Linked DNA regions of Homo sapiens. The protein of the gene in region 2 purifies or fractionates together with the protein of the main gene of each other region. This does not show direct contact. Each region holds a gene or a part of one and is shown on either strand. Other genes may lie near its edges.

Region 1 (3,500 bases), on a different chromosome or scaffold from region 2:
CTCAGAAGCTGCTCCTGGAGACAGCTGCCCCGAGGGTCTCCTCCAGTAGACGGTACAGCGAAGGCAGAGAGTTCAGGTGAGTCCGACGCCAGGCGTCCACTTTCTGTACTCACCTCCGAGAGCTGGAGAACAAGCCAGGGAAAGGTGCTGATGAGGCGGGCGTTAACCCACACCGGATGTCCTGCTGCCGCTGGGGTTGAATTTTGGTTCTGTTCTTATTTGTGATACTTTTGCATTTGTCATTACTTTTTTATATTTGTAATGTTGAGAACACTTTTACTGAGAACAGACTAAAATATATGACTTTATGAGTCATTAGGAACATCGGAATTCTTAGAAGTCACAATGACATGTAAACTTTACCCTTCAGCAGTAAAGTCTGTCACCTCTTAAATAGGAGCTGGATCTACCCAGTAGACATGGTCCTTTCCGCTTAATAAAGGGAGGAGTGGACGTTTCAGGGCATCGATAAGAATTGGAGAATTGGATTCTTGCTTTTTTTTTTTTTTGAGACGGAGTTTCACTTTTGTTGCTCAGGCTGGAGTGCAATGGTACAATCTCAGCTCACTGCAACCTTCGCCTCCCGGGTTTGAGCGATTCTCCTGCCTCAGCCTCCTGAGTAGCTGGGATTACAGGCATGTGCCACCACGCCCGGCTAATTTTGCATTATTAGTAGAGGTGGGGTTTCTCCATGTTGGCCAGGCTGGTCTCGAACTCCCGACCTCAGGTGATCTGCCTGCCTCGGCCTCCCAAAGTGTTGGGATTACAGGCGTGAGCCGCCGCATCCGGCCAGATTATTGCTTTTATAATGATCTTCTAAGCTTCTTCCTACAGGCTGAGAAATAGCAGGGGGGACGTTTTACGTGTGGGGAATGGTCAGAGTACTTTGAAAACTTCCTGTGGCTATAGTGGGCATTCCAGGATTGGGCCTTTTTTCCTGCCAACAAAATCTGTTGGTGCTGTTGTGTAGTCCACAGCAGCCTGGACCCTGAGGCGATCCTGGCAGGGCCTGTGGGGTGCGTGTGTTGCCTGGGAGGGAGCAGAGTGGTGCTCAGCCTTGGAACCTGTTTCTTCGTTCTTCCTTCCCTGTGATCCCTGCGTGGTTCCTGGAGGTTTATTTGGCTTTCGGGCTGGCATCTACTGTGCTTGTGAGCAGAGCGCATGCATTTCCCACTCTTTCCCTAGAGCTGGTGACCGGAGGCTCCGGCCTGTGTAACTTTGAAAGCCTGGAATTCATGTGACCCCTGCTGACCTAATCAAGACTCCGAAAGCACAGCCCCATGTGCTGGGACTCTCCTGAGGAGTTATTAAAAACTCGCATTAGTTCTTCAAGCTTACTGTGACACAGAAATTGGCTACTCGCTCATCAACACAGGATTAAACATGTCTAAGGTTAAACTTGTAGTCTAAGTGATACGATTTAAGATGGACTGTCGACTGGGCGCAGTGACTCACACCTGTAATCCCAGCACTTTGGGAGGCCGAGGCGGGCGAATCACCTGAGGTCGGGAGTTCGAGACCATCCTGGCCAACGTGGTGAATCCTCATTTCTACTAAAAATACAAAAATTAGATAGGCGAGTTGGCGCATGCCTGTAATCCCAGCTCCTCGGGAGGCTGAAGCAGGAGAATCGCTTGAACCTGGGAGGCAGAGGTTGCAGTGAGCCTTGGTTGTGCCATTGCACTCCAGCCTGGGCGACAAGAGGACAAGAGTGAAACTCTGTCTCAGAAAAAAAACAAAAAAAAAACAAAAAAGGATTGTGTAGGTTAATTGGTTAATTTTTTTTTTTTTTTTGAGATGGAGTCTTGCTCTATCGCCCAGGCTGGAGTGCGGTGGCGCCATCTCGGCTCACTGCAAGCTCCGCCTCCCAGGTTCACGCCGTTCTCCTGCCCCAGCCTCCCAAGTAGCTGGGACTACAGGCGCCCGCCACCATGCCGGCCAATTTTTTGTATTTTTAGTAGAGACTGGGTTTCACCATGTTAGCCAGGATGGTCTCGATCTCCTGACCTCGTGATCGCCTGCCTCAGTCTCCCAAAGTGCGGGGATTACAGACGTGGGCCACCACGCCCGGCCTTTTTTCCCTTTTGTTCATTGTCTTTAGCCAAGTGGTATTTATTTAGCAAGCATTTTAGGACACAATATGCCGCAAAGTTATCCTGTTGAGTAAGCCTGGTATAAACTGAGAGTTTCTTTCTTTCTTTCTTTTTTTTTTTTTTGAAATGGAGTCTCGCTCTGTCACACAGGCTGGAGTGCAGTAGCACTATCTCGCTATCTCGGCTCACTGCAACTTCTGCCTCCTGGGTTTAAGTGATTCTCCTGCCTCCCGAGTAGCTGGGATTACAGGTGTGTGCTACCATGCCTGGCTAATTTTTGTATTTGTGGTAGAGACAGCGTTTCGCCACGTTGGCCAGGATGGTCTCGAGCTCCTGGACTCCAGTGATCTCAGCCTCCCAAAGTGCTGGGATTACGGGTGGGAGCCACTGCACCTGGCTGGTTATTTTTTTTGCTTGTTTTTTTGTTTGAGATGGAGTCTCGCTCTGTCGCCCAGGCTGGAGTGCAGTAGTGCAATCTCAGCTCACTGCAACCTCTGCCTCCTGGGTTCAAGTGAGTCTCCTGCCTCAGCCTCCCGAGTAGCTGGGATTACAAGTGTGAGCTACCATGCCCAGCTAATTTTCTGTATTTTTAGTAGAGATGGGGTTTTACCACGTTGGCCAGTCTGGTCTCGAACTCCTTTCCTCAAGAGATCTGCCCGCCTCAGCCTCCCAAAGTGCTGGGATTCCAGGTGTGAGCCACTGCGCCCGGCCCCGGCTGGTTATTTTTAAGATGGGACTGAAGTTGAGGGCTGGGCTGCAGGAGGAAAATGAGCTCCGTTCTGATTTCCACTGTTGGAACCCCAGTGCCTCCCTCCCAGCCACTCTTCAGTTCTTGGCTGCGAGCAGTAGCTTTGCTGTCTGTCCTTGGTTTGCTGTATTTGTAATAAGGAACCTTTGCTATGAAATTAGTGGGATACATTGGCTTCTCCTGTCTAATTTTGTGTAGCTCTGTCTACACAGTTTGGGTCCTAACTTGACTGCTCTGGGGCTGCTGGTGGCAGAGGACCCTGGGGCTTGGGAGTCGTGTCTGCGGTTGAATCCTCTCTGTGGGAGGTGGCCTGTGGTGCAGCCTTGTGGCTTGAAGATCTCTGATGTTGGAATGGTTGCTTGTCAGCACAGACAGGGCATGAAGTCCAGGCTGCGTTCCTCACATTTAGACCATTCTCTTTGTCCTGCCAGGTGTAGGTGAGGGTGCACTAGGTTGGAAGTCGTGGAAACCCACCCACCTGAGCCCAACCCTGAAGGGCACTGTTGAGGCAGAGCCTCAGGTGTGCCTTAGGGCCTGGCACCTTTGCTTTGTGCCATTCTGACTTTGCCTGCCTGGTGGGCGACTTCGTGGGCTTTGTGTTGGAGGTGGCTGCTGCAGTGACCTTGGGCTCTGGGCTCCCTTGTTTACAGATGCTTCCC
Region 2 (3,479 bases):
GAATATAACTATCTTCCCTCCAACTCTGTGCTTTGGTATCCTTATATGCAAAATGGAGACAGGATGTACTTCACAGGGCGCTGATTAGGCAAATACATGTAAAGCACTTAGAATAGTGCATGACACTCAGCAAATGATGGCTAATACTATCAATCTCTGGGTTTAAAAGGGTGATATAACAAGAGGAGCACCATGGCTTAACTGCATGAAAGCAAGAAAATCAGGTTGAGGTCTTGGCTCTATAAAGCTTACCAATTACCAACATGCCTTGCCTTGGGCAGCCCCACTCTTTTCTGAAACAGTTAACTGTTTCTTATTACTGTTATGAGGAATAAAAGAGATGACATATATTAAGGATTCTGAAAACTAGTTTGCAAAATGGTGATTTTTCTAACACATAAAATCCTTTCACCTTAAATTAGCTGACATTCAAGTTAGAGCTTTCTCTTCTCTCCATTTTTAAGTCAACATGGAATCATGGTATCTTATTCAGTGAGTTGTAACGTTGCTACCAGTTTATTTTGATAATTGACACAGATTTAGCAAGTATAATCCTTCAAGTGGCTCCTGTGCCCTTTTGACATGTATCCACCTTTTTGTTGTTGTTGAGACGGAGTCTCACTGCAACGCCCAGGCTGGAGTGCAGTGGCACGATCTCAGCTCACTGCAACCTCCATCTCCCGGGTTCAAGCGATTCTTCTGCCTCAGCCTCTTGAAAAGCTGGGATTACAGGCGCCCGCCACCACACCCGGCTAATTTTTGTATTTTTAGTAGAGACAGGGTTTCACTATGTTGGCCAGGCTGGTCTTGAACTCCTGCCCACTTCGGCCTCCCAAAGTGCTGGAATCACAGGCGTGTGCCACTGCTCCTAGCCAACCACTTTTTTTTTTTTTTTTTTTTTTAGATTTCCTTTGTGGCACCATAATAGAATGTTCCAGGTTCATCTCATATTTCTCCATCCCAGGAGCCATTATTACTCTACTTTTGAGTATGTCCTCAAAACTGGTCTAACAAGTCATTTCAGAAAATAATTTCACTTCAACAATACACTGTTTGTTGATTCAACACAAACTGCATGGGCTGCTTAGATCAATTTACACTTGGTTCATCGCCATCTTTGGCTGTTTCAAACATACACTGCTAAAAAAAAAAAAAGATTGTCATTAAGAATATTACAATAGAAATGGAAGTTTTGAGGAGGAAGAAAATCCCCCAAAATGTAAGCAATGGTAATAATGCATTTAAAGTATAGTCTCACAAAGTCTCACTTAAGAGAGCAGCACACCCAGGACACACATATTGATCTGCTGACACCACTTCTTTACTATACTTCATATAGATGTCCTCACATCTTGATTTACATGGTTATAACTGCTTAAAAACTGGCAAAGAGAAAACCTAAAATAATGCTTTATACCAGTTTGAGTCAGAACCAGACTGTTCCAGACTAGTTGGAAAACGACCCAGGAACTCACCTGCATTAAATGCTGAATTTAACTGAGCTAAAAATGTCTAGGCCATCCCTTCTTAGAATTCCCATGACTCATTCTAGTCAAAAGCTATAAGAACATATTCCTTAATAGTTCAGCAAACTTTAGGGAAAACTAGCTCATTGTCTTGGGTTCTAAAGTCCTTTTGTTTGATTATTTTTATTATAATGAAATTAAACTTATGACTATTACAGTATGCTCAGCTTAAAACATTTATGAGTACTGCAAGGACTAACAGAAACAGGAAAAATCCTACTAAAAATATTTGTTGATGGGAAATCATTGTGAAAGCAAACCTCCAAATATTCATTTGTAAGCCATAAGAGGATAAGCACAACCATATGGGAGGAGATAACCAGTCTCTCCCTTCATATATATTCTTTTTTATTTCTTGTTATACCTTCCCAAAACAGAGACATTCAACAGTAGTTAGAATGGCCATCTCCCAACATTTTAAAAAAACTGCACCCCCCAATGGGTGAACAAAGTAAAGAGTAGTAACCTAGAGTTCAGCTGAGTAAGCCACTGTGGAGCCTTAAGTGGTGAGGTCTTCCAATTTCAGAGTGATGTGTCTTCAACTTGTATCATCATTTTAGCGGAAAAACATAATTTAATTTTGGTGAAATGAGATTCATCTCGTAACAGGATTAGTAACAGCATTCACTGAATTTCACACTCTTCTTTTGTGAACAGTGAAGAAAATGAATGGTAGCTAGAAGATCAATGGGATTCCAGCTCCAGCTGCAGATGGAATGACGATATACCAGGACAAAAAACACCTATATTTTGATTTACAAAGCTAACAGCAGTTTTAAATCTGCAACTTAATTACAGACCAACTACACCACAACCTTTTCAAATGGCAAAAATACAAAAAAGTGTTACAAAAATATTTCAGAAAAAGTGCATAGTCTAAGTGCATAGTAAATAAAAGCACTGAAAAATATCTTGCTAGAGGGAGTTCAGCTTGGAAGTTATTACCAAAGCTAAACATTTTTATTTTACACAAACTATACTCAAAAATAGCTTTATGAGACTGATTTCTGGCTAAAAGTATCAAAGGGTTTATTAGTCAAGAAACAAATACCTCAACCGACAAGGGTGGATAGAAAAGAAACAAAGAAGCTGCCTACCCCAGAAGTTCAGACTTAATAAAATTTCTTCAGTATTACGGTACTAATATCCCTTAATGGCAGAATGTGATAATCATGGAATTAATTATTGCTAAAGTAGTTTTCAAATAAAAAAAAGAAAAAAGAAAACAAAACAAATTAAACTTGACACAATCTGACCAAACACGTGTCAATTTACAATTTCAAGGTTATTTTACAAAATACCTACATTTACACAATAGGCTCCCGGCAGCATTTCCAGACAAATGTTCTTTTAATTTATCCTGACATGCTATAAATGAATAAATTACACTATTTAAAAATTATCATCAGTAAGTTTTCCTTTCTCATGGGTCAGAGAAAAAGAAATGAGCGTGCAAAGAAGATTGAGAGGAAGCGCACGCACACAGATAACTTAAAGAAGCAGGAGGGGCTGGGGAGGGTCAACAATCACTGAACCTCACACAGTGTGATGCTCTCCAAGGGTGAAAGTCAACTGCTTATAGCCATTTCAAAAGTATTTTAAAGAAAAATGTTTTGTAGGGAAACCCTTTAATGCTTTCATTTTTATTCAAAATCAGTCCAGCTGCTAGTCAGCGGGCAGCAGCTACAATACCAAGTTCTGGCAGTTGCAGTACTAGATATTGTGCCTGCAAGTCATAAAAAAAAAAAAAAAAAAAGAAAAAAATGAAAGAATGCCTTTCCCCTTCAGACAAAAGAATTACTTTTTTCATTTTTCTTAAAAAAAGAGGAAAAGTTATAACACGAAACCTAAATTGACTTGCAAAGGAATACCATGTAACAAATGGCTTGAAGTAGTCTATCAAAAAATTGGGGAGATTTTTATTTAATAGTGAGTCAGCAAGGCATTTTTTGT
Region 3 (3,500 bases), on a different chromosome or scaffold from region 2:
ATTTTGAAAGAAGGTAAGAGGGGCCGGGCAGGGTGGCTCACAACTGTAATCTCAGCATTTTGGGAGGCTGAGGCAGGTGGATGACTTGAGCTCAGGAGTTCAAGACCAGCCTGGCCAACAGGATGAAACCCTGTCTCTACTAAAAATGCAAAAGAATTAGCCAGGCATGGTGGCAGGCCCCTGTAATCCCAGCTACTCGGGAGTCTGAGGCAGGAGAATCACTTGAACCTGGGAGGCAGAGGTTGCAGTGAGCCGAGATGGCACCATTGCACTCCACCCTAGTGAACAAGAGCGAAATTCCGCCTCAAAAAAATAAAAAAAAAAACCCAAAACACTGAAATCTGAAATACAGAAAAAAAAACATACAATTCATTAAATAACAAAAATATGAATGGTTAAATTTACTAGTAATTGCTTAATACATTCTCTACCAAAATAACTTTTATTTTAAGAGATGAAGTCTTGCTATGTTGCCCAGGCTAGCCTTGAATTCCAGGGCTCAAGTGATCCTCCCACCTCAGCCTCCTGAGTAGCTGGGAATACTACAGGCACACATCACCATGCCCTGCTAAAATAACACTTTCTAAAGGATAATATTCAAGACAGGTGAAAGTGCCCTTACACAGGCACGACTACGACTAAAAGATCAATATATCCTTTCTGGCAAGCAAACAGTATGAAAATAATGAAAAATGTTTATATTTTTTGACACAGTAAACTCACGTCTAGAAATCTAAAAGAACCAGGGATGTAGATAAAAGATTTAAGTAGAAAGATGTACATTTGCGGCATTATTCATAATATGGGAGAACTGGAAACAGATATATTAAATTTTATATAAAATGAAATCTTATACAAAAACATGTTTTCAGCCAGACGCGGTGGCTCACACCTGTAGTCACAGCATTTTAGGGGGCCGAGGTGGGCAGATCATGAGGTCAGGAGTTCAAGACCAGCCTGGCCAACATGGTGAAACCTCATCTCTACTAAACGTAACAAAAATTAGTCAGGCATGGTGGCAGTTGCCTGTAATCACAGCTACCCAGGAGGTTGAGGCAGGAAAATCGCTTGAACCCGGGAGGCGGAGGTTGCAGTGAGCCAAGATCAGGCCATCGCACTCCAGCCTGGGGCAACAGAACAAGACTCCATCTCAGGGGGAAAAAAAAAAAAAAGAAAATCAGCCAGGCGTGGTGGCTCATGCCTGTAATCCCAGCAGTTTGGGAGGCCGAGGTGGGTGAATCACTTGAGGCTAGGAGTTTGAGAACAGCCTGGGCAAAACAGTGAAGCCCCATTCCTACAAAAAACACAAATATTAGCTGGGCATGGTGGTACGCACCTGTAATCCCAGCTACTTGGGAAGCTGAGGCAGGAGAATTGCTTGAACCCAGGAAGAGGAGGTTGAAGTGAGCCAAGATCATGCCACTGCACTCCAGCCTGGGCCACAGAGTAAGACTCCGTCTCCAAAAAAAAAAAAAAAATCAATTCAGGAGAACCGGACAAAGTAGCTCACACCCTGTAATCCCAGCACTCTGGGAGGCTGAGGCAAGCGGATCACTTGAGGCCAGGAGTTTGAGACCAGCCTGACCAACATGGCGAAACCCCATCTCTACTAAATATACAAAAATTAGCCCGGCATGATGGCACATGCCTATAATCCCAGCTACTTGGGAGGGTGAGGCACAAGAACTGCTTGAGCCCCCCAAGGCAGAGGGTGCAGTGAGCCGAGACTGTACCAATGCACTCCAGCCTGGGAGACAGAGGGAAACTGTTTCCCAAAAAAAAAAAAAAAAAGGCAGCCAGGTGTGCTGGTATACACACCTATAGTCCCTGCTACTCAGGAGGGTGAGACAGGAAAATCACTTGAGCCCAGGAGGTCAAGTTATAGTAAGCAATAATCACTTCATTGCACTCCAGCCTGGATGACAGAATAAGACTCCATCTCCAAAGGGGGGAAAAAAATTCCAACTTTAGATTAAATGTCTACTGAAAAAGTTATGTTACTAATTGATTTCGTACCTATATACTCATAGTATCTAAAAAGCTCTGGAAACATGTAGTTTTATTAAACGGTTCACTGCAGAATAACAGTATTAAGAAAGATTCTCAGCCGGGTACAGCATACCCCAACACTTTGGGAGGCTGAGGCAGGAGCATCACTTGAGCCCAGGAGCTTGAGGCTGCAGTGAGCTATAATTGGGCCACTGCACCCCAGCATGGGTGATACACTGTCTCTTAAAAAATAATCAAAAATCAAAAAATTTGAAATTTTATTCAATGAAAAAGATTCTTATTCAGCTATACTTATTACCACTTTTGAATTCCTACTACAATTATCACAGAAATTTGTCTGAATTTTTGAAGATACATAAAACACGGTCAGTAATTTTCACTTTGCCAACTGAACAGTGGTGATTCAGATAGATCATCATAAAATTTATACAATGTTAACTAGTAAGAACTTTTAGGCCAGGCAGGATGGCTCACACCCCTAAACCCAACACTTTGGGAGGCCAAGGGAGGCGGATTACCTGGGGTCAGGAATTCAAGACCATCCTGGCCAACATGGTGAAACCCCACATCGACTAAAATTACAAAAATTAGCCAGGCATGGTGGTGCATGCCTGTAATCCCAGCTACTCAGGAGGCTGAGGCAGGAGAATCGCTTGAACCCAGGAGGCGGAGGTTGCAATGAGCCGAGATCATGCCATTGCACACCAGCCTGGGCAACAGGAACAAAATTCCTTTTCAAAAAAAAAAAAAACTCTTAGCCTAATCTGGGATTAAGTCCTGTGGTTCCACCAAACAGTCACATGTGACCCTAAGCAAGTCACATAAATTCTCTAAACCTTAGTTCCCTCATCTGAAAAGGATGACAGAGTACCTCCCTCAAAGAACTGATTAAATCAGCAGCATGCAAAGCATGTAAAGTACTTAAGTACCCAACACAAACTATTCAATAAAGTAATCTGCTTTAAAAATAAAACACACTGAAAGGCCGAGGCAGGTGGATCACCTGACATCATTAGTTCAAGACCAGTGTGGCCAAACTGGTGAAAATTAGTCTCGACTAAAAATACAAACATTAGCTGGGCGTGGTGGCAGGCGCCTCTAATTCCAGCTACTCAGGAGGATGAGGCAGGAGAATCACTTGAAGCAAGGAGGTGGAAGTTGCAGTGAGCTGAGATCGTGCCATTGCACTGCAGCCTGGGCAACAGAGTGAGACTCCGTCTCAAAAACACCACCACCAACAAAATAAACACAACAGAATTATTCTGCAAATACAGATATTGGAGTAGCTGAGTTCCATCTCAAATTTGACTATGCAGGTTGACAGGTGATCTTGGCAAACTACTTATCCTTTCTGAAGTTCAACTTTTTCACCAAATGGTATTGGGATACAACACTTGCTCTTGCCTATCTCACATGAATTATCCATTTTGGACAACTTGGTAAACTATAACCCACCAAACGAATACACAGAGTAAAATCTACAACACATA
Region 4 (3,500 bases), about 14 Mb from region 2:
CTTTCTTCCATTTTTAGATGGAAAAGATATTCTTTTTCTAGCCATTGTGTCAGAAAGTCTGTTGGATATAAAAAGATATAGTGTGAAAATTATATGTCTTATTTAGAATAAAGCCAATGAGAAAATTAGAATCAGAGCTTATGCTGTTTCAGTTTTTATTTCTTTGCATCTGTATATTTTCCTCTTCGGGTATCAAAGTTTAAGTCGATTTCTCTTTGTAAGATTCTTTCTGAGATAGCATAATTAAATATTCAAGATGTGTTGCTATTTAACATTAGAGGGAGGCAGTCAGTAGCTTTATTCATAAAGTTCCACCTGTTCTTTTCACTGGGCTGATTAGGAAAATCCTGATTTATTGGGTTGAAAATTTCTAAACCTAAAATGTCTTGAGATTTTTAGAATATTTTATTTATCAGATGAGTGGCCTACACAATGTTTAACAGTGTAATGTTTAAAATAGAAACTAACTGATTGGATCCCTTCATCTTTTCTGATAACTGAAAAACAAATTTGGCTGTCATATCTGTGACATCTAAATTTGCTTATAAGTTTTTTTGGCTTTTAAACAGAAGGAATCTCAAAAGAATGATAAAGATTTGAAGATATTAGAGAAAGAGGTAAGCAGTGCTTTAAACTTAGTGAAAAGTACACATGATAGAAAGAGAGTTACACAGATTTAAGAGATAAGGATTCTGTTGCAGTGTGAGGAGTCCTGCAGTGAGGCAAACATGCCATCCAGAACAGTGCCTACAGGAAAACAGTTCTTACAGTATTTCACAGATCTATCCGGGCTATGTTAATGTGGTATGCTGGCAACGCCGAGATTAAAGATAGCCCACTTAATGAAAAACTGATAACTGAAAAATCATTATGTCAGTTGATTACAATTATATATGTGGATCAAATATTTATATCTATCCATCGTTCACAGTCTTCCTGTATGCTAACTTATGTTAACACAACATAGCTAGAGGATTTCTTAGTGAGCATGCAATCCTAGCTGGTTAGACTGTGATGAAGTTAGGCTAACTCGATGCATTGCTCTGCACAATAGGTATAGGCCTTCCTCATGGGTGAAATAACATAGAGCTGTGCTGTTTGATATGGTAGCTACTCACCACATGTGATGATCTAAATTAAATAAGAACTCAATTCCTCAGTTGCAATAATCACATTTCAAGTGCTCAGTAGCCACATGTGATTGGCAGCTACCATACTGGACAGGGCATTTCCACCATGACAGAAATTTCTATTGAACAGTACTAACCTAAAGAACCCATTTACTTTCCTAGCAATGCTAAGCAGCTCACTGTGAACTTTGCTTCTCTGCAGTCTTTTTTTTCTGTTTCCATTGCTGACCAACTCTTTTCCTCATGGATATATTCTTTCAATATATTAAAATCTTTCATTTGATTACAGTCGAATGTTGGCTTTCAACCAAGAGTATGTCAGAGTAACTGTAAATGTCTGCTCAGTTGCTCTGATTCTTTTTTATGTATTCTAATAATGTTAGCTATCATTTTACTGAGGGTACATGTAGGGGTTGATACTTACAGGAATAATCACTGAGTCTCAGTGAGATAGCTGGTAAGTGAGTGGTAGAGCCAGGATTAGAACTAATAATTTACACCAGTGACTTCATTGGGTATAGAATTTTAGGGTGGCAGGTTCCCCCCCATTATATTAAAAATATCATTTCATTGTCTTTTGGCTTCCACATTTTCTGTTGACAAATATTGGTTTGGGTTTTTTTTTGTTTTTTGTTTTTTTAATCTGGTAATAGCAGCAAGAATGATGGCTTGCCAATGCCTAGTACATTCTCCTCAGAAGCCCAGCTCTGCCTTCTTGAAATAAAAAACATTTAGCATTTTAAGCTAATTTGAATTTGTGTAATTGAAGCTAGAGAAAATAACTATTATAGGTGGAAATACCTTAAAAGTGAATAAATAGCGGCCGGGTGTGGTGGCTTACACCTGTAATCCTAGCACTTTGGGAGGCTGAGGCGGGTGGATCACGAGGTCAGGAGATCGAGACCATCCTGGCTAATATGGTGAAACCCCGTCTCTATTAAAAATACAAAAAATTAGCCGGGTGTGGTGGCCCGTGCTGGTAGTCCCAGCTATTCGGGAGGCTGAGGCAGGAGAATCGCTTGAACCCAGGAGGCGGAGCTTGCAGTGAGCCGAGATCGTGCCACTGCACTCCAGCCTGGGCAACAGAGCACAGAGCAAGACTCCATCTCAAAAAAAAAAAAAAAAAAGTGAATAGATAGCTTAATTGTACTTGGAACTTATGGCAACTAAAGTTCTTATGTTCTTAAAATGCATTAAGACTTTTAAGATGTATCATAGGTAAATATGATTATTCAAATAGCTAGTAACATTAGAATATCTACAAGCATAATGTCAAAATCAGAGATTTTTCCAGAAACTTTAGGGGTGATTATTGGTAGCATCTCCTTATGTTGGCATTCTATCAGTGAATCATTTATTATCACCTTGTTTTTGTCCAGATTCGTGTTCTTCTACAGGAACGTGGTGCCCAGGACAGGCGGATCCAGGATCTGGAAACTGAGTTGGAAAAGATGGAAGCAAGGCTAAATGCTGCACTAAGGGAAAAAACATCTCTCTCTGCAAATAATGCTACACTGGAAAAACAACTTATTGAATTGACCAGGACTAATGAACTACTAAAATCTAAGGTATCTGAGCCTCATGATAATATTTACAATTGAATAAATATAAACACGTTTTTTAGGGCCGGGCACGGTGGCTCACGCCTGTGTTCCCAGCATTTTGGGAGGCCAAGGCAGGCGGATCACCTGAGGTCGGGAGTTCGAGACCAGCCTGACCAACATGGAGAAACCCTGTCTCTACTAAAAATACAAAAATTAGCTAGGCCTATTGGCGGGCGCCTGTAATCTCAGCTACTCGGGAGGCTGAGGCAGAAGAATCACTTGAACCCAGGAGGTGGAGGTTGCAGTGAGCTGACATGGCGCCATTGCACTTCAGCCTAGGCAAGAGAGTGCGACTCCATCTCAAAAAACAAAACAAAACAAAACAACATACACCAGGCGATTCAGATTCATTTTGTTAAGCAAACATGTTTCAAGAAATCCTTTCTCAGGGACTTGCTTTAGAGTCTTGCAATGGACTTTCCAGCATATAGAGGTAAGTGACCACCCAAACAACCTTTCAAAAATGAACCAACAGGCCAGCCACAGTGGCTCACACCTGTAATTCCAGCGCTTTGGGAAGCTGAGACGGATGGATCACTTGAGGTCAGGATTTTGAGACTAGCCTAGCCTAACATGGCGAAACCCCATCTTTACTAAAAATACAAAAATTAGTCAGGTATGGTGGCGTACACCCGTAATTCCAGCTACTCAGGAGGCTGAGGCATGAGAATAGCTTGAACTCGGGAGGCTGAGGCATGAGAATAGCTTGAACTCGGGAGGTGGAAGTTGCAGTGAGCAACACGGCACTCCAGCCTGGGTGACAGAG

What was found. The genes of interacting proteins can lie anywhere in the genome.
Region 1: the proteins of CSNK1A1 (region 2) and AXIN1 purify together in Homo sapiens (co-immunoprecipitation; 4 studies listed by BioGRID and IntAct, with this or other methods). This does not show direct contact.
Region 3: the proteins of CSNK1A1 (region 2) and USP34 purify together in Homo sapiens (affinity purification with mass spectrometry; 5 studies listed by BioGRID and IntAct, with this or other methods). This does not show direct contact.
Region 4: the proteins of CSNK1A1 (region 2) and HMMR purify together in Homo sapiens (affinity purification with mass spectrometry; 8 studies listed by BioGRID and IntAct, with this or other methods). This does not show direct contact.

Annotation. Positions count from the first base shown.
Region 1 is NC_000016.10:342,724-346,223, reverse strand, and holds part of AXIN1 (axin-1), read left to right. Parts: coding exon 1-76; intron 77-3,500. UniProt on the Homo sapiens protein: Component of the beta-catenin destruction complex required for regulating CTNNB1 levels through phosphorylation and ubiquitination, and modulating Wnt-signaling.
Region 2 is NC_000005.10:149,492,482-149,495,960, forward strand, and holds the end of CSNK1A1 (casein kinase I isoform alpha), read right to left. Parts: 3' UTR 501-3,479; downstream 1-500.
Region 3 is NC_000002.12:61,461,088-61,464,587, forward strand, and holds part of USP34 (ubiquitin carboxyl-terminal hydrolase 34), read right to left. Parts: intron 1-3,500. UniProt on the Homo sapiens protein: Ubiquitin hydrolase that can remove conjugated ubiquitin from AXIN1 and AXIN2, thereby acting as a regulator of Wnt signaling pathway.
Region 4 is NC_000005.10:163,467,132-163,470,631, forward strand, and holds part of HMMR (hyaluronan mediated motility receptor), read left to right. Parts: intron 1-569; coding exon 570-617; intron 618-2,509; coding exon 2,510-2,698; intron 2,699-3,500. UniProt on the Homo sapiens protein: Receptor for hyaluronic acid (HA). Involved in cell motility. When hyaluronan binds to HMMR, the phosphorylation of a number of proteins, including PTK2/FAK1 occurs.